Regions from separate parts of the Homo sapiens genome. Here region 1 is linked to region 2. The links come from fine-mapping of genetic effects on gene expression. A gene starts in region 2. The other region holds a variant in brackets. All regions are shown on one strand. Distances are from middle to middle.

What was found. PIP is the estimated chance that this variant, and not a neighbour inherited with it, causes the effect.
Region 1: its variant is fine-mapped to the expression of RBFOX3 in blood mononuclear cells (TOPMed, PIP above 0.99).

The regions. Positions count from the first base shown.
Region 1 is chr17:79,550,391-79,561,997 of GRCh38, forward strand. All of the region lies in intron 1 of RBFOX3 (RNA binding fox-1 homolog 3), which reads right to left. Among named protein-coding and RNA genes, the nearest start is that of RBFOX3, 55 kb to the right of the region's middle. The variant A/C (reference allele first, on the strand shown) is at 5,892.
Region 2 is chr17:79,606,488-79,618,094 of GRCh38, forward strand. It overlaps RBFOX3 (RNA binding fox-1 homolog 3), which reads right to left and starts at 4,564. Exons shown (of 15, transcript NM_001350451.2): 1 at 4,339-4,564.

The DNA.
Region 1 (11,607 bases), 56 kb before region 2:
GGGCCCAGACATCAGGGAGAAAGTCCAGATGCAGGTCCACAAGCTCATGGTAAGGAAGTACATCACACACACACGTCTAGTACCCAAGCCTGGGATGGAGGACACATAGACCATTCTATGGTTTATTTAATAAGTATTTTTCAAAGTACCACTACATGCTATAATCATTTACGGAATGACGGAATGACAAAATGACTAAGTGGATGAATAGATGGATGAGTGGACAGATGATGGGTGGATAGATGGGTGGGCAGATGGAAGAATAGATGGATTAAAAGACGGATGGATAGGTAGGTGGATGGGTAGATGGATGAGTGGATGGAAGGATGGATGAGTGGATGGAAGAATGGATAAGCGGATAGGTGGCTGTGTGGATGAATGCGTGGGTGGGTGGATGGATGGATGGTCAGTGAGTGGGTTGATTTATGGACAGACAGCTGGATGATACTCTGTTGAAATAAATGGAAGCAAATGGACAGAAATAATTTGACTTTGCAATTCAAAAATTCTCAAAATCTAGGACTTGGTATATTCTACATCAGTGCCATCCAATAGAACTTTCTGTGAGGACAAGAATGCTTTATACCTGCACTGTCCAGTGTGGTAGCCGCTAGCCCCATGTGGCTACTGAACACTTGAAATGTAACTAGTATATCTGAACAAAAGAAATTTTATTTAAATAGTCGCATGCAACTAGTAGTTGCTGCATTGAACAGAACAGTTCTAGAGTTTTTCAACACACCTTGCTGGTACTTCCTGGGAGGCCCTTGGGAATCCAGGCTATGCAAGGCCAGTTAGAAGAGATGACTCTGTGAGAAGCTGACACCAACATGAGCAGGGCGATTCCCCTCTCCCCCAGCCCCTGGTTTCTGCTGAACAAGAAGGGAACTTGCAAAGCCAGGGGCTAGGAAAATGCTTTTCAACTTTAACATGTAGTATAATTTGGATATTTGTCCCCTCCAAATCTCATGTTGAAATGCAATCCCCAATGTTGGAGGTGGGGCCTGGTGGAATAAGTGGATGGATGGGTGGATAGATGGGTCGGTGGATGGATGCCTGGTTGAATAGGTAGATGGATGAAAAGATGGGTGGATGGACGGGTGGGTGGATGGACGGGTAGGTGGATGGGTGGATGGATGGACGGGTGGGTGGGTGGATGGATGGGCAGATGGAAGGTGGATAGATAGGTAGGTGGATCCCTCATGAACGTCTTGGTGCCATCCTCCATTTGGGTCATGGGGGCGGATCCCTCATGAATGGCTTGGTGCCAACCTCCTGGTAACAAGTGAGTTCTTGCTCTGTGAGTTCACATGAGATGTGGCTGTTTAAAAGAGCCTGGAACTTTCTCCTCATGGTCTTGCTTCCTCTCTCACCATGTGACACTCTGGCTCCCCTTCACCTTCCGCTGTGATTGTAAGCTTCTTGCAGCCCTCACTAGAAACAGATGCCAACACTACGCTTCATGTACAGCCTGCTCATGGCCAAATAAACCTCTGTTCTTTATAAATTACTCAGCCTCGAGTATTCCTTTAGAGCAATGCAAATGGACTAATATAATATGCATACAAAGCACCCAAAAATTTTGTTTAAAATGCAGATCCTAAAATTCAGTAGGCATAGGGGAGGACTCAAACATTTGTATTTCTAATAAGCCCTTACATGATGCTGACGTTGGTCCAAGGACAATATTTTGAACAATAAGAGTTTTGGAGGCTTTCCATTCCAGAAAAACAAGGTTTTGTGGGTAGCAGAATGGAAAGACCCTAGAAGACCAAGATTAAATACAGAGAATATGGCATAGTAAAAGAAAAATTCAAATCTTCAAAATTTGATAATTTAAACAAATTAATGTATTGAAACCTTACTATAGGCCTGTATGCTATGGAAAATGCAGGGAGCTTCTGAGCTAGTTTAGGTTGCAAAATAAACACATGAAAAGTTAAACAATAAATGACTTAAAATAATGGCTTAAACATCACACATCAGCAAAGCCTTTCATGGCCCCCACTCTTCACACTGCAACCTCACCCTGACTCCTCTCCCAGCAGCATAATTTGCCATAAGAATATCATTATCTAAGTTACAACACAATTTTCTTATTCGTTTCCCACCTAGAATGCAAGCTCCAGTGGGGAAGGAATTTCTATCTGTTTTGTTCACTGTTGTATCACCAGGGCCTGAACAGGGCCTGGTGTATGGAAAGCGCTCAAGTCAGCAAATATTTCTTGAATTATAATGATTCCATTGTAATTCAAGAAATATTTGCTGACTTTAAGGCTTGGCTCCATTTGGAGTTTATCGAGGTGTAAAAAATGTTCTTCAGGATTCTTAAGTTTTTTGCACATGCATTTTGCACATTTCTTGTTAAGTTTATTCCTAGATATTTTATTTTTGTTATCATAAATAGGGGCCTTTTCTCCCATTATATTACTGTTGTAAGACAGATACATATATACATATGGACATGCATACATGCATACATAGGATTACCTTGTTGGTTGTAGTAGTTTTTCATGGATTCTCTAGGATTTTCCAAGTATACAATTATATCATCTAAAAAAGGGTAATACTTTTAGCCCCTCCTTTCCAATATTTATTCTTCTCATTTCTTTTCTTGTCTGATTGCATTGGCTAATGCTTCTGCTACAATATGAAATAGTAGTAGCAAGAGTAGGCATCCTTGCTTTTTTCTTAACTTCAGTGTTTCCACATTAAGAAAAAAATGAGTTTTGAATATGATTACAGTCACGTTAAGAAAGTATCAATTTATGTTTTGCTGAATGTTTATCAAGAATGGATGCTGAATTTTGTTAATGCTTTTTCAGTGTTAAAAAAGATAATCGTGTGTTAATTCTCTTTATATTAATATGATGCATTATATAAACAGATTTCTTCCTATTAAACCATTCTTGCATTGCTAGAATAAACTCCAAGTAAACACAGGGTATTATTATTTTAAGATGATGCTTGGATCCTATTTGGTAATCTGTTATTTAAATTTTTGCATTGATATTTATAAGTGAGACTGGCCTGTAGTTTTATTTTTGTACAATATTTGTCAGGTAAAAAAAATTTTATTCTCACTTTAGGAAAATTACTTAGACTTTTTCTTCTTTATCTTTGCTGTGGAACACTTTAATTAGCATTGGAAGCACCTGCTCTTTAAAGGTTTTGTTCAAATTCCCCTGTGGAACCATTCAGACCACAAGCTTTGTGTGAGAGTAGCTTAGAAACTTTCTATCTTCCATACAAATTGATCAGTTTGGTAAATTATATTTCTCCCTTATTATTCCTCATTATGTGTTCCTTGGGTTTTCTTGGGGTTTTTTTGTTTGTTTGTTTTCGTTTTTGAGACAGAGTCTCTCTCTCTCTCTCTCTGTTGCCCAGGCTGGAGTGCAGTGGTGCGATCTTGGCTCACCACAACCTCTGCCTCCTGGGTGCAAGCGATTCTCCTGCCTCAGCCTCCCAAGTAGCTGGGATTATAGGCACCCACCACCACATCCTGGCTAATTTTTGTATTTTTAGTAGAGATAGGGTTTCACCACGTTGGCCAGATTGGTCTCAAATTCCCAACCTCAGGCAATCCACCCGCCTCGGCCTCCCAAAATGCTGGGATTACAGGCGTGAGCCACTGTGCCTGGCTGCTTTCTTGACTTCTAACCTTGACTATGTTTGTTAGTGGTTCATCTAACTTTTTCCAGAAAACAGCTTTTATTTACTAGTCCCATTTTTCTATTTTGTGGCCCATTATTATTATATTAGTTCATTAATGGCTTCCTTCTACTTTTCTTCAGTGCATTATTTTTTGTCCTTTTTCTAACTTTTTTGAATCATAAGCTTAACTGAGTTACTTTTGTTCTCTCATTTTTATTGGCTGTGAATTTAAGGCTGTGCATCCTCTCCATCCTCACTCACAGTCACCCCTCACCTGGCCCTCTCCATCCTCACTCACAGTCACCCCTCACCTGGCCCTCTCCATCCTCACTCACAGTCACCCCTCACCTGGCCCTCTCCATCCTCACTCACAGTCACCCCTCACCTGGCCCTCTCCATCTTCACTCACAGTCACCCCTCACCTGGCCCTCTCCATCTTCACTCACAGTCACCCCCGACCTGGCCCTGCTGGCCCTTTCTTCGTGGGTGCTTCGCACCCCGCTGTGAGCCTGACTTCATTGTGCTGTGCTGTTTCCACTTTGCCTTCCCCAGCAGGCTGGGCTCCTAGGAGGTGGGGACCACGTCCTGCTCAGTTCTGGATGTCTAGCACCTAACACAGGGTCTCACACATGGAAGGTTTTCAATATACATTTGTGGGAAAAATTACAGGGTGGATAGTAATTTTGATGTAATATACAATCATTATAACTCTAAAACCAATATTTGAATATTAATTCTATTCCAGGCTCTGTGTTAGGTTCTGATGAGCATAACTTTTTTAATCCTCAGACACCACCATGAGGTGGGGTTTCCTCTCCCTCTTTTATGGAATAGAAGACCCGGGCTTAGAGAAGCTAAAGACTTCTCCAAACCATAGAACATCAACGGACAGAACTCAGCCTCATGAACAGCTAAAATGTACAGTCACAAAAAGCAAAGGAAACCAGCCTGAGGGGAACAAAGAGGGTCCACAGGGCAGGGCAGCCAGAACACAGGCTTGAGTGTCAGGCAGACTTGAGTTGGAATCAGATCTGCCACCACTAGCTGTGGGACCCAAGGCAAATAGTTTCTCTGTGCCTCAGATGTTTCACCTGTGAAATAGGGAGAAGAGTATCCATATCCCCAATGGATGACTGTAAAAATCACATGGGTGATAGCTATCACATACCCAGCACAATGCCTGGCCCATGGTAAGCACTCGGGAAGTGGTGATAGTGATGGCCATGGTGGTGGTGGTAGTGGTGGTGATGGTGGTGATGATGGTAGTTGTGGTGGTGGTGATGGTGGTGATGATGGTAGTTGTGGTGGTGGTGATGGTGGTGATGATGGTAGTTGTGGTGGTGGTGATGGTGGTGATGATGGTAGTTGTGGTGGTGGTGATGGTGGTGATGATGGTAGTTGTGGTGGTAGTGATGATGATGATGACAATGATAATGGTGGTGATGACAGTGGTGGTGGTGGTGGTGATGGTGGTGGTGATGGTAGTTGTGGTGGTGGTGATGGTGGTGATGATGGTAGTTGTGGTGGTAGTGATGATGATGATGACAATGATAATGGTGGTGATGGCGGTGGTGGTGGTAATGGTGATTATGTCAGTGATGGTGGTGGTGGTGGTGGTGATGGTGATGATAGTCATGATGGTGGTGATGGTGGTGATAGTGGTGGCAATGGTGATGATGGCAGTGATGGTGATTATGATAGTAGTGGTGGTGGTGATGGCGATGGTAATGGTGATAATGGCAGTGATGGTGATGACGGTGGTGATGGTGACGATGATGATAGTAATGATGGTGGTGATGGTAACGGTGGTGATGATGATGATAGTGGTGATGGTGGTGGTAGAAGGCAGTGGCAGCAGCAATGGTGTTGGCAACAATGACAACAATTACATTATCCCAGAACTCCAACTACAACAATGTCACCAAAACCCAATACCATACAGTGAAGACAGGCCCCATTGGAAAGATGAATCAATGCCCACAGAGCAAAAGAAATGGAAGATTCTAGAATGTCAGAGCGGGAAAGCATACTTGCAATCATCCAGACGCAATTCCTCCACTTTACAGACGGGGAAGCAAAGACCAGGATCAGGAGAGCAGTTTACCCAAGGTCTCACACCTGCTACCAGCCAGGCCTAGAGAAGACCAAGTTTTCCAAACCAAGCTGGTCTCCACTCCTCCCTCCCTGCTGACCCCTCAAACACCAGTGAGCACTTACTCTGGGCAGGGCACTGGCTT[A/C]GGTCCTGGGAACCCAAAGAAATGAATACAGGAAGGGGACGTCAGGACATAAGGCAAAATAGACAGCAGTTCCATTCGGTGGCAGGAGGAGGAGTGCCCGTGTGGCTCCGTAAAGCATTTGAAGGGCCGAGGAGGGGACAGACCATGCTGGAAACAGGGTTGATGGAGGTAGCTCTGCCCAGGCCGCCCACAGGAAGGCTTACAGGGAGCTGTTGGGGAGGAAGTGTTGATTTTAACACAAATGAGCGACAGGAGGAGGAGCTGTAACCACATCCAGAGTGGGTGGGGAGAGGAAATCAAGTACACAAATTAGGGCTGATGTGAAATTAACGGCTACTTAAAAGACTCGAACTAATTTAATAACTTTGTCAGTAATGAAAATATATGAACTAGGAAGAAAAGACGGGCAAAATATTTACTGGCAAAAGGCAAAATAAGCAAATATCTGAGAAGGCAGCACATCTATCAACGTCTTGAGATGGCAAAATTCCTAGGAAGGGAGGGACTTTCTGGAGGCACAGAGTCCACCGAAGGGGAGCGTGGGGAAGGGGACAGAATCAAGGACTCCTCACTAGCAGGGGTTGCTGCTGCCCAGGGGTTCACCCTGTGTCCAGCTGGTGCTCAGGGCTTTCCACGTCTGTCTCCATGGTCCCCAAAGAACTCTACTGAGAAACTGACAAGGCTAGTCATGGTGGCTCATGCCTATAATTCCAGCACTTTGGGAGGCCGAGGATGGTGGATCATTTGAGGTCAGGAGTTCAAGACCAGCCTGGGCAACATGGTGAAACTCCATCTTTACCAAAAAATATAAAAATTAGCCAGGCATGGTGGTGGACACCTGTAATCCCAGCTACTCGGGAGGCTGAAGCAGGAGGCAGAGGTTGCAATGAGCCGAGGTCGCACCACTGCACTCCAGCCTGGGTGACAGAGTGAGACACTGTCTCAAAAAAAAAAAAAAAAAAAAAAAAGGAAAGGAAAGGAAAGAAATTGCCCAGAGAATGAGCAGGTAGCCTGGAATTCCAATCCAGGCAGTGTGGCCCCAGGCCCTGGACTGTTAGTCTCTATCTGGTCTGTTACCCCTGCCCACCCACCCAGCCATGGAGAAGCCAACAAGGGCCACCCTCCAAACCCCGAGAAAACCCAAGTCCAGTCTACTCACAGCCAAGCCCCCATCCCACAGCTGCAGTCTCTGAGATGATGGAACATTTCCAAAGAGACCACGTCTGGGGCCGTGGGAGCCCGGCGGTGGTGGGGGGAAAGGGGGGAAGAGTGGCAAGGACCAAGTGACAGCTGCGGATCCCCAGCCCATTTTCATAGGTGCCACCAAATTAGCGGCTGTTGGTGAGGCCGAAGAAACGAGTCTGAAGAAATGTTCTGTGTGAAATTGGACTAGATTGGCTCTGGTATCAACACAGGCACAGGCTGAGGGAGGCTGGACAGCCATAAACAAAGGCTAACGGCAGATGTCAGCGTATCGGGCAGGCGGGGGCATCTCGTGGGAGGCCTCCTGGGCCACTGCAAGGCCCCAGTTTTGTTTAATATCCAAGCTAATGATCTGGAAGACAACAGACAGGTCACGAGCAAAACCTGCCGAGGACGCAGGGGGTGGCGCTGCGGTTGTTTGCTGGGGCAAGGGGACGGCCGGGAGACAGAGGAGACCTGGAGGGAAGATAAGTAGCTCCCAAGTAAATTGAGATTCAGCTTGAAGAAAAATTACAAACACTCAAATCTAAGAGGAGAAAAAAGCAGCCTGAAACTGCTATTTTCTGAGCCGAGGAAACCCAGGAAGCAGGGAGAGGGGACAGACTCAGATCATCACGAGGTCCATCGCAGACCAGCTTGTGATGTCACACGGGGAGGGTGATTTGTGTTTTGTTCACTGTTTGGGGGCAGGAAAGACATACCCTCAGAGGAGCTGAGAGGGCCACGTGGCCCAGGCCCAGGGATCTACCTGGGTGGCCGCCTTTGCTCTGAGGGGCCTGGCGCAGGAGCAGGAAGGAAAATTGGAGTTCAGAAAAATATTTGCTAACACAGAGAGAGTGAGAGCCAGGATCTCCCGCCCTGTGTGCATGAGAGCCAACCCAGTGTCTGGTGACTGGCAGACAGCAGGGAACCGTCCGGAGGGTCCAGGCGCAGAGACCGGCTGGGGGCAGCTGAGGGGCGGGGCTGAGGGCCCCAGGGTGCTGGCGGATGGGGAGGATCTTCCAAAGCAGAAACACCAGGGCCCACACTTCCCGGCTGCCCAGGAGGGAGGCAAGACCACAGTCAGGACCAGCCCTCCAAGGTGGCTTCGGGCCCCTGAACACTTCCCTCCCGGCCGGGCTCCATGCACTCACTGCTTGAGAGGAAACCAAAATTGTCAGCCCGGACACATTTGGAAATTTACTGGAGCAGCCTTCCCCTGCCTTGCGGGGATTGGGTTAGTCAACCTGTTAACCACATATTCTCACCACCCACAGTGCGCGGAGGCTGCGTGGGCCTGCGGGGAGCAGGAGGGAGAGAGGAGGGACCGAGGCCAGCTGCACAAGAAGGACATTGACAATGGTGGGGGGTGTGCCAGGGGATGCAGGGCCAGCATGGAGGGCACAGAGAGGCTTGCTAAGGAGCAGGACCCCTGTGGCCCAGAGGCTGTGTGGATTCAACGTGGGCAGGTGCCCTCACATAGCAAGCATTTACCAGGCATTGTCCATGCCAGGTGCTCAGCTGAGGGGCAGCAGCTGGACTCCTGAGAGTCCCCACCAGGAGACCCTGGGAGCCCTGGCCAGGCTGGTCTCGGGCCTGGGAACCTCAGTCTTACACGGGCAGCAGCACTGATGACCTCACAATCTAGCACATTAATTGTTCTCACTGGAATAGAGCTCCCTGAGGATGGGAGGGGCGGGGGTTGTCTGTCTTTTTTTCCCATGATTGTCTTACTGGTGCCTAAAATAATACCTAGCATGCATTAAGTGCTTACTAATTATTTATAGAATGGATGGATGGGTAGATGGCAAATGGTGGGTCATGGTGGGTGGTGAGTGGGTGGTGGATGGTAGATAGGTGAGTGGCAGTTGAGGTGGATGGTGGATAGTGAATGGGTGGATGGGATGGATGATTGGATGGATGGGTGGATAAGTGAATGGGTGAATGGTAAGTGGTGGGTGGTGGATGGGTGGATAGTAGATGGGTAGGTGGATGGTGACTGATGGATACTGCATGATGGATGGGTAGGTGGTGGATTTTGTATGGGTGGATAGTGGATGGTGAATAGGTGGATGGGTGGATAGATGAATGGTGGGTGGACAGATGGGTGAGTGGGTGGGGGGGTGGATGGAGAGTGATGAGTGAATAGGTAGATGGATGGATGGGTGGATGGTGAATAGTGGATGGGTGGATGGATGGGTGGGTGGGTGGATGGATGAGTGGGTCGGTGGGTGGATGGATGGGTGGATGATGGGTGGTGGATGGATGGGTGAATGAATGGGTAGATGGATGGATGGGTGGATGGTGAATAGTGGATGGATGGGTAGGTGGGTGGATGGATGAACAGATGGGTGGGTGGATGTTAGGTGGTGAATGAATGGGTGGATGGATGGATGGGTAGATGGTGAATAGTGGATGGTGGGTAGGTGGATGGGTGGGTGGGTGAGTGGATGAATAGATGGGTGGGTGGGTAGGTGGATGGTCGGTGGTGAATGAATGGGTGGATAGATGGATGGGTGGATGGTGAACAGTGGATGGGTGGAAGGATGGGTGGGTGGGTGTATGGATGAATGAATGGGTGGGTGGATGAATAGGTGGGTGGGTGGGTGGTGGGTGGATGGATCTTGTGACACCCCGTTGCATCTTCAGCAACTCCTAGAAAATCAGGTCCAAAGTAACAGCCTCCCCCACCCACCGTCAATCTCCATCCCAGCCCCAAAAGACTGAGTGTAGAAGTGACTGGGCTGAAATGGTTGCTGGGTGGTCACCGAGCCAGAGCAAAGCACAGGGAAAGGCTGAGGGAGACCCGAAAAGCCTAAGAATGCCCAGCTCTCACATACACAGGGATACTTTGCGAACTGCAGAGCAGAGAACCCATGCAGGTATTCATGCTTCATTCGCCATCCCACTGCAAATGAAGTGCCCTCCCTGTCCTGCTGGCGGAAGGTGTGAGAGGGCAACCACTTTACTTCTCCTTGACTGTAGCCTCAGGACCAGTCAGAACAGGTACTCAAGAAACAGCAATTTCATTTTTATGTTTACCAGGACGGTGGGCACCTAATGAGCAGCTACTGCCCACCCGACCATGGCGTGTCCAGGAACATTGAAGAATACGCACTCCAGGGATCATGGGGTTCAGTGACTTATGTTCCAGCACCAACTCCCCACATCTAAGCCTGCCAGCCAGTGCTGTCACAGCAACCTCACCTCACCACAGCCAGAACACTCGTGGCGGGAAGCCGTTCAGTCTCCATCCACAGATGCCCCCACCCACTTCCCCACCCATGACAGCACGGCCAGCGCGAGAGCTGCAGCTGCAGGTGCTTCCCGAGCTTCAGCCTGTCACTGGGTGGCATGCGGAGGACTTCACCTGCGTCCTCTCCTTTTCTCAGCTGCCCCAGGGGGTAGGAAGGATGCTTGGTCCCATTTCACAGTTGGGGAAACGGAAGCTCATGGGGATTCAATAACTTGTCCAAGACCACGTGTGTAATAAGAAGTGAAGCCAGCATTTGGACCCCAGCCAACTCTATGGGCCAGGCTCCCCACCAGACAGAGCTGGGGGCGCCTGGCCTCTCCCACAATCAGCTGCACCCTCAAAGGAGGATGTGTTCACAATTCAAACAAATAGACCTTGCACTACAGTGAGTCCAAAAGAGGAGTCTCAAAATCTTTAGAGATTTGGAACAGATGCTTAGAACTTAGTAAGGTGACTGCTTTGCAAAGGGTCCTTTTGCCATTTTAAAAAAGTCACTACCATGTATGCCCCTGGGGGCTTAAGTTCACCACCGTGCTCCAAGGGTTCAAAGGGAGTGTCAGGGGTGCCAGAAATAGAGCCCAGCCTTGCCAGGGCTGAGCAGCCGGCAAGCCCAGCTTCCAGGAAGAAACGCTGGACAGTCAGCCCTTCCCCAGGCTCTCCAAATCCTAGACCTCCCTCTGCTCCAGTCACCCCCAAGGATTAAGGGTGAGCAGAGACCACCACTGCAGATTCAGATGACAGAGAGCAAGGGTCGCCAAACTCAGGAGTCCCCAGAGACACACGAACGAGGCTGACCCCACACCCCAGCTCCACGAGGCCACTGGGTCAGCGCCTTTCCATCAGCCGATGTCACCGCTGAAACTGAAAAGCGGTGCGTGTTGGTGACAGCAGTGAGTGCCCAGTGTATGCAGACCCCTCGAGGCAAGCACCACCCAGCTGGGCACTGAAGCAGGTGTCCTCACAGCAAACTCTGCAAAAGGAGCCCTCCCTTCATCCCGGCCCGAGTCACAGAGCAGCAACCAGCGTCCTGAGGGCAGCCCTCACCTCTTCCCAAGAGAGGGGCACATGAGGGTAGGGACTTAGACCCAAAGCAGGCTCAGGCTCCCGTCCACACCTGTGTCTGGTGGGGACGGGCAGGAACGCCCAGCAAAGATGTCATCCCTGGCATCAGGGGGAGGGACATTGGGCTTCCCATGCATGGTGCTATGAGTCCCACTGCTGGGTGGGCAGCAGAAGAGATGGGCAGCGGCCCACACAGCTCACCTCATGGGGACAAGC
Region 2 (11,607 bases):
ATAGACTGAGCTCGCCCCGAGCTACAAATAAACTAACAGACTTTATACTCTTTATTATTCCAGCCTCCCTCTAAGGCGTGTTTTGGTGTCAGTCTATGTGTTGGAGAAACTGTGATAGCAAACTAATTTACTAAGTGCATTGCACTTAAAAATGTCTATTTTATACACCAAATCAGTCTGTGTCACGTGGTATTTCTTGAAGGGAGGTGACTCGTCTGTCTGTGGGTCCCCAACCCAGAACAGGCCCCGCCGGGTATGCACAGCATATGTATGTGTGCAATGCTCCTTGCATGCCCGCCATGCAACTGTTAACCAAGAGCCGTCCTCAACCCTCACAGGTCACACAAGGAGGCAATCACACACTAAGCATCCGCGCCACTCAGAAAGCACAGGAGGAAAAAAGAGTTGGGGAGAGGAAGAGATAGACGGACAGGGAGACAGGGAGATAGACCCAGGACGTTATAGAGGACAGGGATGGCTCAGGGAGCAACCTTCTTCAGAGAGGCAGCAGAAAGTAAGATGTTGAGGCTGCCTGAATGTTTCATGAGCCTGTGAAAATACCGCGCTGCTTTATGAAAGAGCGTGGAGAGATGCTGCAGCTTATCAAAGGGTGGAGGTACAAACGGGATGTGTTTATAAAGCCGGTGCCTTGTGCCAGGAGCAGGGGCCTGTGGCAGGCAGGGATTTAGGGAATGGTAGGTTCCCTACCAACCAACAAACGGGTCTCTGTTGAAGGGGGAGAAAGTTTCAAGATGGCTTCTTCCCCTTCACTTGTTTAAAAATAAAAAATTCCTCACCAAATGTCAGCTGCGTGTCAGGTTCCATTTGTCTTTATAACAGAGTATCAAGCAGGAGCGTGGAAATAAATAAACACAGGGAGACAACCGACCAAAACTTGCAGGCTCTGGGCTGGGCTGGGCTAGAGGAGGGAAGCCCCACCCTGCAAGGGCTGAAAAATAATATTGCAGTTTCGCGTTCAGCACTGTGGCTCTGGCCCACTGACATGTTTTCCTCTCTTTACTGCCCCCCACCCCCTACCACCACCACTCTGGCGCTTCTGGGAGGGATAGGAGCGTGACTTATGCATTCCTTCCTTCCGAATTGCACAGGCATCATGGGTCAGAACACCATCTGCGTATATGGGGGAGGGGGCAGATAAACCAAGCAGGGCCCCTGCCCTCAGCAGCAAGGCACCTCCAACTGCCACACATCGGTATGAAGGCGCCTTAGGCCAGGGCTGAATGTGGCTGGGAGAGAGGTGTCAAAGAAGGCTGCAGGGGAGAGGCAACAGGGCTGAACCAGCCAGGGAAGATGGCATTTTCTCTGGCCACTACAGTGTCTAGTTCATCCCTAGACACCAAAGAGCCCGATAATCTCTCCATTTCACCGATGCGCCATCAGCCACGCTCCAAGTTGAGTAAGTGACAGGCGCAGGACAGAAGGCCCACTCTGGAATGGTACCCAGGAGGCCTCCTTGCTGTAATTACCTCTTCGCAGGCCCTGGGCTTTTCTGGCTCTTGAATGAGCCTCGGGAGCCCTCCCCATGTCCTCAGCAGCCTGAGGGCGGCCGCCCGCAGCGCCTCCAGCGGCCCTGGGACCGTGTCAGAGGAGGGAGGGCGAGGAGGGCAGGCTGTGGAGGCCCCGGCCCTGTCCTTGGTGCTGGCGCCCGCTGAGTGCCTGCTGAGCCACTCAGAGGCAGGGGCCGCCCATGCCGCCACCTTCCCTCGACATCCGCCTCTGGTCCCTGCGGAAGGGCAGTGAATACTCCCAGCCCCGCTGTGGCTCCCAACCGAGGTCACTGGGTGCGGAGCATTTGCCGCAAAGGCCCATCCGAGTAAGGGGCGGAGCCTAGGGACTTCCCTGGACTCCTGGCTCCTCCTGGCACCCAGAGGCGACCCGAGGTCCCCGGGGTGGGCACGGGTCTCTCTAGGCCCCAGGCCCCTGAGGAAGGTGGATCAAAGCAATCACCCAGGTTCCCTTTTTTCTTTGGGGGGAGGAGGGTGGATAGCTGCTAGAAATGGACAACTCACCCCAGAAAACCCCGGCCGTGCAAGCGCAAACAGCCCAGCACCAGTGGCAACCCCTGCCGCACGCACGCAGCCACCTCGCCAGGCCCAGGCTGTCTCGGCTTGGGTGCGTCCCTTCAACCGTGCTTCTTGCTCCTTAACCCCTTCAGTGGTCCCCACGTCACCCGCTCTGTCTCCCTCCTGGGGACAGCCTTGCCCTCCCAGAAGCTGTCAGCCAGGAAATGAAGGGTTAAGCGTTGCTTCCAGGAGTGTGCGGTGAGCGGTGAGCGAGGCGCCCACGCAGGAAGGCCTCCAGTCCTGGGGGAGGGGCGGGGGGGCCAGCCTCGGTCCTCGGCCAAAGGGAGCTCCTCGCCCGCAGGAGGCGGAGAAGGAAGGCGCGCCGGGATGGTTCTAAGAAGGCTCCCCTCCTCCGCCCCCGCCATGCCGCCCCCACGCCCCCACCCCGCCGGCGCTCAGTGACCTGGGGCGCCCCTGCAAGAGGCCCATACCCGGCTTTCATCAGGCAGCGCCTTCTCGACAACTTTTCTCCCTCTCTCCCCTCACAATTTTTGCTCACCTGGAGGGTCGGTTTTTAATTAGTGTAATATCCCCGTGAACAACGCAGCCTAATTAAGACATCCGTCCCGAATCCGCGATGCACACTTAATGAGCAGGTTCTGCCGCAATGTTTATACTTTTTTTTTCCATTATGTTTTGCAGACCAGTAAAACCGAAGCCGGCTTCCGGCTGAAAGACCTCATTACGGGCGACCCCACTCCATTAGCCTCCTACCTGCTCCACGCTAAGTGCCCGGGGCGCCCGGGTGCATGCCCAAGGCGTCCCCGAGTCCAACCTGCGTTTGGAGCAGGAAATTAGCAACCTGCGCGCCCGAGAAGCGACTTCACCACCAGCTGGGGCAGGAAGGGGGACTTAAACCCAGGGATGGATCCCTTGGGTCTCTGTCCTTAGCCTCCACCGTGGGGTGTCTCGCGCGTCGGGACTAGCGGCTCCGCGGGACTCCTTTTTAAAAGTGATCATTAAATAAATCAGGTACCTCGCCAAAGCTGGAACGGAAAGGGGAGGGGGAGGCAGCTCTGTTGTCCAGGAGTTTCTCCCCACCTCGCTGGGCCCCCGCCCCCACCAGTGGACTCCGGGAACATCCCACCCCCACCCTACGTGATACCAGGGATCCCAGGGCCGCTTGGGGACCCGACAGGTTCCCAATGCCCCTCCACGCGGGGCGCCGCGTCTCGGTCCCCGCACCGACACTGCAGGGCTGCGCGCCAGGGGAGGCTCCGCGTCCCGGGGAGGGAGGCTGCGACCCCCAGCACCAAAATGACCACTGGCCTCGCGCCACCCCGAGACGCCACAGAAGACCACCTTCCCGAGCGTGCGAGCCCAACACGCCCCGGGCGAGCCCCACCACCGCCCGGGGCCACCAGGGCAGAAAGTTTGGGCCAGGGGCGTGCCCGGCTTTCCCAGCCCGGCCGCGCTGCTCGAGGCCCTGGGGGTGGCCGAGGCTTCAGAGAGGCAGCCTCTGCTCCCGTTCCAGCCTTCCTATCGTGCTTGGGGACTCGGCCCGGAGCGCCCCCAGCCCGCCCCCTGTAGGGCCCTGCGCGCCGCTCGCCCCTCGCTGCTCGGCCCCCGCGCACACCGCGGTGCTGCGGGCCCCGCTCCTATTTGGGGAGCTGTGGCAGCCCCTTCCTCCCCACAACTCCTTTGGGTCATCAACCTCTCAGCGACCCTCCTTTCAGAGGACCCCGGCAGGGCTCTCTCCGGGCCTGGGTGCCGCGACAGACGCACGTTGCACCACCGCCGGGTCGCCAGCCTCTCTCCCACCCGCGCGGGCTCCGGCTGCCTGCTCGGACGCGCCCCGCGGGGCCGGGATCTCCGCGCGCCTCTGCCTCCCCCCGCCGGGGAGTTCCCCGCGCCGGGCATTGTGCCGCCGCCGCCGCCGCCACAGCCACCACCACCGCCACCGCCACCGCCACTGCCACCGCCACGCAGCGCGCGGGACTCCCTGGCGTCTCCATGGAGCCCGACCCCCGGGCCTTCCCATTCACAAAATCGCCCCTCTGGCCCACGGCCGGACAGAGCGTCCAGACCCCAGCCCCGGAGGGACCCAGGGACCCCGACCCCGCGCAGGGACCCCTGACCCCGAGGGCGCCACCCCACCCCACGCGCCCTCGGGTCAGCCCCGGCCGCGCTCAGCAGCCCGCCTCCCACTGCGGGGTCCCATGCGCCCCTCCGCGGCCATGTCCCCCTCCCCCAGCTCAGCCCGATGGGAATGACCGCCGCAGAGCGAGGCGGGCGACGAGGCCAGGCTACTCACGGGCTCAGCGCTCCCCGCGGCAGGTGACTGGGGGCCGGCGGCCATGCCCCGGCTGCATCCCGGCCGCCGAGCGGGCAGCGGCGTCCTGGGGCCGCACAGGCACCGGCGAGCCAGCGGCAAGGGGCGCGCGAGGCCGGGCTCGGGCGGCAGCTGTGGCAGCTGCTTCTCCTCCGACCACGCGAGCTGCTGGGGCCCGGCTGGGGCCGCTGTCCGAGGAGGTTCTGCTGGCTTCGGAGCAGCCCCGCGCTCGCTCTTCCCTCGCCTCCTCTCTCTCTCTCTCTCCTCCCTCCTCTCTCCGCCCTCCTTCTCTCTCTCTCTCTCTCTCTCTCTCTCTCTCTCTCTCTCTCTCCGCCCTCCTTCTCTCTCTCTCTCTCTCTCTCTCTCTCTCGTTCCTCTGGCTCGTTCGGCTGGAGCGAGGCGGCAGCAGGAGCACGCGGCGGCGGCGCGGGCGGCGGTGGCAGCTCGAGCGGAGCGCGCAGCGCGCGGCATGGGAGGGGGCTCTGGCTGTCGCGCGGCCGGGGAGGGCGGCGGAGCGGGGAGAGCCATGACCGGGTGGGCTTCGGCGGTCAGCACCCTGCAGCCTTCAGCGCCAACTCCTCGGGGCAGGGGCACAGAAGAGGTGGGGTACACACGGAAGATCCCAGAACCCAGTGCTGCCCTGGTCCCTTCAAGGGCAGCCCCAAGCCCGCTGCCCCTCCCCACCTCCAAGCTATCTTGGGGGCGGATCAACCCAGGTGACCCTTAACAGGACCCCTGCCCTTGTGCCTCGCTGTCCCTGGGGGCCATTTTTCTTTGCCAGGCCCAGGGATCCCCAGCAATGGGACGTGGTCACCAAGCATCAGGGACGAATGCCACCCCACCCCGCATGCCATGCCATGCCTTTGAGTTGCCCACATACCCCAAACCCCCTCACTAGGCCCAGGTGCCCTGACTTCCTGGAGGACCACTGGAAAGGAAGGGATCGGGCCCACTCCGTGCTGTTAGTCCAGATTGGCCAACCCAACCCATTTAAACATTTCCACCTGTGCCTGGCTGGAGAGGAAGGACTGTGGGAGGTCAGCTTAGGATTTCCCTAAAATCAAAAGATCAGGTAGCTCCTGTCCCCAGTCCCAGCCTCCCCCAGCATCTAGAGTAAGGGGCCTGGTGTGAGTTCTGGGAGGGTCTCTATCCTTGGTGCAGAGGGAGCAGGAGAGCAGAGGCTGAGGACACAGTGGAGTGGGGACCCTCTGGAAAGGCAGGAGAGATCTATTGCTGGGGTCAGCCCACCACTGGCACACAACACCAGAAGTGGGCAAGAAGGTCTGGACGGTCCCAAACAGGTTTAGGCAGGAGGCTGAGTAATCATTTCCAAAACAAAAGACATTCTGGTGCAGCAACCAGGCTGGAGAAACGAGCCTGCACCATCGAAGGACATTTCCAAATTACACACAAACAGATCCAAACCCGTCCCCATGTCACTTTTGCTCCTGAAGGCTGCTCCTGGAACAATTAGCCTCCTCCTCGCACCTGACTGTCCTGCTTTTCTGTGTGAGGTGAAAAGCACATCATGGAATCTGGGGTTTGGTAGGGGCCTGGAAGACCCAGAGGCCAGGAAGAGGGGAGTATGGATTTGGAGCTTCTCGGTAGTAGGGGCTCTGGGCTGCTGGCTGCCCCCCCTGCAGGGCAGCAGAGACGGTGGCCAAGACAGTGGCCGCTGCCCACTTATGAGCGTCATGCTTTTAATTTCTGGCCCTCCAGCCCGTCTGGGTCATTGATCTGTCTTGGCCGGTGGGAATCGTGTTATACAATTCCAAGCATACAGCTAAACAGCCCCACAGCTAACCACCAGATAAATGCCGTGTCTACGAGCAAGGCAGCCGCCTGGTTGACTGAACTTTCCCCTGCCACCGGATTTGAAATGGCGCATTCCAGCTCTAAAGCCCTAATTGGGCCTCTTGGTTCTCTGCTGTCAGATGGTCCAGGCTTTCGTGGCCTCCAACTCCCGGCTGGGCCCAGCCACTGCCTGGCAGGCACCTGTCTCCCTGCAGGCAGGGCTCTTGCCTCGCTGTGCCGGCAGTGCCCCCTGTCGGTCCCGCTTGTCCCTTGCCCACATTTCTTCTCCCTGGGGAGCCTTTTCCTCTCTGGTCCAGACCCTACTGCCCTTTGGAGCCTCCTCGCAGAAACCTCTCGAAGAGTGGGATTCGAGCCCATCTCCGTCTCCCTTCAGCTCCCCATGCGAGTTCTGCATGTGCCTGTGAAGTGGGGACACATTGACCTGGCAGAGCTGTGTGCCCGAGTGGAAGAGGGGTCCCTGCAAAGCATAGGGCCCGGTAAATCATTCCTTGGGGACGTTCTGGAAGAGCTCTCTGAAGACAGCACCAAATCTTGTTCCAAGTTCCACCAGTCCCAGCCCAGGACTCAGGACACGGTGGGCCTGCTCAGACGCCCGGGTGGTAAACTGAAATTGGCCTCTGTGGTTGGGACTGGCCACAGGGCCTGCGCGTGAGGACACCCCTTGGGAACAGGCCCCAGCCAGGCCGGCCTCATTACCAGCCCCAGAGAGTTTGCCCTTCGTGCTCAGCTGTCGTAGACAGGGATCTGGCCGGAAGAGAGTAAGTGTCAGGGCCAGCAGGACATACCAGCACTAACCGGGAGATTTTCCATTTGGGGACGTCATCTAAGAGAATTTTTAAAACCTCTGATTTGGAAACTTTAATTTTTAAAAAGTGAGCACATGGGGAGGACTGGGGAGTCCTTGGTAATAATCATTAGGAGAGAAACACAGGGAGACTGGGCTTGGGGCCAACAGGACGACTGAAGGCACAGAGCTAATTTCGTGCCCTCTGAAAAATCCCACTAAAACTACAAAGAGAAAATTTTAAAAAGGGGCTGGGCATGGTGGCTCAAGCCTGTAATCCCAGCACTTTGGGAGGCTGAGGTGGGTGGATCACCTGAGGTCAGGAGTTCGAGACCAGCCTGGCCAACATGGTGAAACGCCGTCTCTACTAAAAATAGCAAAACTAGCCAGGTGTGGTTGTGGGTGCCTGTAATCCCAATTACTTGGGAGGCTGAGGCAGGAGAATCACTTGAATCCGGGAGGTGGAGGTTGCAGAGAGCCGAGATCGCGCCACTGTACTACTCCAGCCTGGACAACAAGAGTGAGACTTCCATCTCAAATAAGAATAACTTTAAAAAGGCATAAACCCCAACGACCTGGAGAATAGGAGAAAAGAGAACAGTAGCCGGCTGTGGGCAGCGGGGAGGCACAGGAGAAGTGGCGGCCCGCCCTCACGGAGCTGAGTCTCGGCCCAGAGGCAGGGAAGGCTGACAATGGAATCCCCCGAAGGCTCAGAAGGCGTGGGGCCCAAGACCCGGGGAAGCCTGGAGATCCTCGGATAGCCCCTCTGGAGGTTTATTCCCTGAGGACACTGAAGCAGCCTCTGTGGCCTGGGGGCCGCCAGACACTGCGGACAGAGGGGCGTCCTGCACGGAGAGCCCCCCTTTTCCCTCACGGCACCTGTCAGCATCCTGACCTCCACCCTCCTGGCAGGAGGCCGGAAGAATCTCCTCTGGGGAATCTCACCAGCACCCAGAGGGGAAACCTGAAGATAGAGCTTTGCTGCTTCCAAGCACAGGCCCCACTCCCTGCTCGGAGCTGCCAACCAGCTTTGCAGCCCCCCTAAGGTGAGTAAAAAGCCAAGGATGACCAGACACCTGCGGAAAGCCTTCATGAGAAGGAGCCGCCAAAACACGCAACAGAGCGGGGCCGACTTCGAGGAAACAGATATTAGGCAGGGAGGAGAAAACATCAGAAATAGCAGTATTTAATATCCTCCCAGAGATCAGAGGAGATACCGCATCCATGAACCAAGAGCAGGGTGCTATTTTAAGGAGAACATTTAGAGAACAAAAAAGCTGGGAAGTTAAAAGCATGAGAGCAGAAACAAAACATCTCAACAGACAGGCTGGAAGAGAAAAGTAAGGGAATGCCCCAGAAGGCAAAGCAAAAAGGCAAAGAGGAGAAAAAGAAGAAAGAGGGGATGAAAAAAAACTAGATGATCAATTCACGAGGCTCAACACAAAAGGAATTCTAACCCCGACCCCCATAGGGCCCCCAGAGAGAAGGAGGAGGAGGAGAAGAAAGGAAATCATCAATTACTTAAGAATTTTTTTCCAGAAATAAGTTTCCAAATTGTCCACAAAATCGATGGAAATGATTCATATCAAGGCACATTATCTTGAAAAGTAAATCACTGAAGAAAAAAAAAAAATGTTTCCCCAAGTTTCCAGGTGCCATAAAAAAGAGCAGGAACGAGAATAGCTCCAGAATTCTCAACACAAAGAGGGCAGCTAACCAATCACAAAGCGTGCCTTCAAAAGCTGATGGCAAGTGATTTCTGGCCTGGAATCCCTTACTTCACAAAATTAACAATCAAACGTGAGATTAAAACAAAGACATTTGCACATGCGAGATCTCGACAAAATTATTTCCCACACACCATCTCTCAGCTACCAGAGGACGTGCTCTAACAAAACAAGGGTGTAAAGCATGAAAGAGGGCAATGAGGGATGGAAGAAACAGAGGATCTAGTAAGCGGGCAGGGATCCACATAGTGGGAGAGGAGGGAGGGCAGGAGGGCAGCTGTGTACCGGGCAAGAGGTTGCCAGTCCAGATGAGAGCAGGGTGGTGGCATGTCCAGCTGCCTAGGGCTCAGACATGTAGAGGGCTGTCACTACCAAGATGCCTCCTGCCATTGTACCACCCTTTCAGTGCCAGGTGAGCCTGGCCCCTGCTCCCCTCTGTGCCCGGCCGGCTCGGGCCGTGTTGCAGTGGAGTGCCTGTTTTCCTTTCCACGCACTGCCACCTGTGTAAGCTGAAGACCCTCATTTCGCCCCATGGAAGCATTTACTTTGATCTACTCTTAGCATCAGGAGGTGGCCACAGGGAACAAAGAAACAGAAAACACACATCAGCCCACCAACCTGCAAGAAGCCCCAGCCAAGGAGGCCCTTGGTTCCCCAGGACCCCTCATGCCTTGCCCAAGAACTCCCTAAAAGAGGCTCTTGTAAAGCGTGGGGCAGCTGCGGTTCCAGAGTTTCACATTGTCTTCTCCCAGGCTCCTCCGTCTAAGGGTAGCAGACCCAAATCATCACAGACAGAAAGGACATCATGGCCCCACTTTCATATTCAGCACTGGACACATCCACAGATAGAAAGGAGGTGAAGATGCAACTGTAGAAGGATCGAGGAAAGCAAGAGATCAGGGGCCTGCTTTTTCCTTGCTGGTCTTTGACGTTCTTGTGAGGTCCACAGATGGCCAGCACCGACGGCCCGTTGGAGAGCTGATGTCACCGCCATTGGCTGCCTTGCTTGCTTTCTCAGTCCAACAGAGTAAATTATAAGGTTACTCTATGTAGTCGTAACCTCCTTGTTAAGAATGGATCTCTCGGCCGGGCACGGTGGCTCACACCTGTATTCCTAGCACTTTGGGAGGCCGAGGCAGGTGGACCACCTGAGGTCAGGAGCTCAAGACCAGCCTGGCCAACATGGCGAAACCCCCTCTCTACTAAAAATACAAAAATTAGCCGGGCGAAGTGGAGGGCACCTATAATCCCAGCTACTCAGGAGGCTGAGGCAGGAGAGTCACTTGAACCCGGGAGGTGGAGATTGCAGTGAGCCAAGATCACACCACTGCACTCCGGCTTGGGCGACAGAGCAAGACTCCATCTCAAGAAAAAAAAAAAAAAGAATGGATCTCTCTGTCTCTCTCTATACAAACACACACACACACACACACACACACGTGTTACTACTTCCCCACTACTGCCAGGCCTGCTACCGCTGTTGTATGTGTCGGATCTCCCCTTCAGGCCACCATCCAAGCACGCTGTGGGACCCTGTGCAGTCCTGCATCAATAAATACCACTTAGGGAGAGCCCCACACGACCTGAGGGAATGTATGATCAAAACGCCCCACTACTGTTTCACGAAACACGCGGGGCAGATGTGCAAACATTTATACTGTGTGGGCTCTCAGGGGTTGTGCACCTGTCCGGGCTCCATGGAATGTAGGTCACAAGGAGACCTTGGAGGTCAGAGACGCCAACCAGCTAACTTAAATGAAGACGTCACAGGGCCGGGCTGTGCTCTGTCCCATAGCTGGAAGAGAGGTGTTCGGCCCTCACACACCCAGCCTCAGCCTCAGCTGTGTCCGCCGGCTGGCTCTCCGCTCTTCACTTCAGTCCCAAGGTTTATCATCCCTCTTTCTCCTGACCCTTTTTTCCTGGCAGATGGTGGCACAGTTTCACCTTGAAGCTAGAGCCTTCAGTGGGAGCAGCTTTCTCCCTGCACGCCTCCTTCTAGTTTCATCTTGTCTTCCTGCTCCCTTTCAAATTCTTCTTCCGTTTTCTCCCTCCATCCAGCCCTCTCTTGCTCTATCCTCTTCTGTCTTTCCTGCTCTGGGGATGGGGGGGTCTTAGCCTACCAGCCTAAAAACCTTATCTGGTCTTCCCCATCCTTCCAGAAGCACCCCTAGATGCTCTTCTCTCCCCTCGTTCCCCTTCCATCCTCGCCTTCCCTCGATCACAAGCATCCCTACCTCCACGTCCACACCCACGGACACCCCAGGGAAATGGCTCTCTCGGGTCACCAGGGAAGGCTGAATCACAAACAGCCAGGCCTGCACTCCCTCCTTGGTTTACTTGATCCTTTACTGCAGGTGGCCCCGTGGCCAAGTCCCTTTCTAGAAACCTCGACTTCATCCTCCACCACAGCACCGTCTCCCACTCTTCTCTCCCGAGGTTGCACGTCAGCATCTCCACCTGTCTTTCTCTGCTTCTCCCTAAACACCAGCGTCCCATTTTCCCAGGTGATCCTATTTTTCTCCCCAATGAGCTCATCCCTCCAGTGGTCTCACTGTCGTGGAAGTCATCCCCGCATTTTGAGCTGAAAGCAACTTCAGAGGTCATGTTGCACAGTCCGCCCATATCACAGATGAGAACACTGAGGCCCAGAATGTCCCGTGGCTCGCCAGCAGCTCTGGGTCCTGGCCTGGGATGCTGCCTACTGCGCCAGCCCCACTGCCCCGCCGCCTCTTGTGTCACATGCAGGGAGCAGCAAGCGCATCTGCGATGTCACATGTGCACCTCCAGGCTTGATATTTTATTTAAGAGTGTGCGACTCCATATCAGTGCCCAGTGGCTTTCAGTTCTGACATTTATCTTCTCCAGAGGAGGATGAACCACTTGCACGCCGTCCGTCTCTCCTCCCACGTGGATGGGAAATGTCAG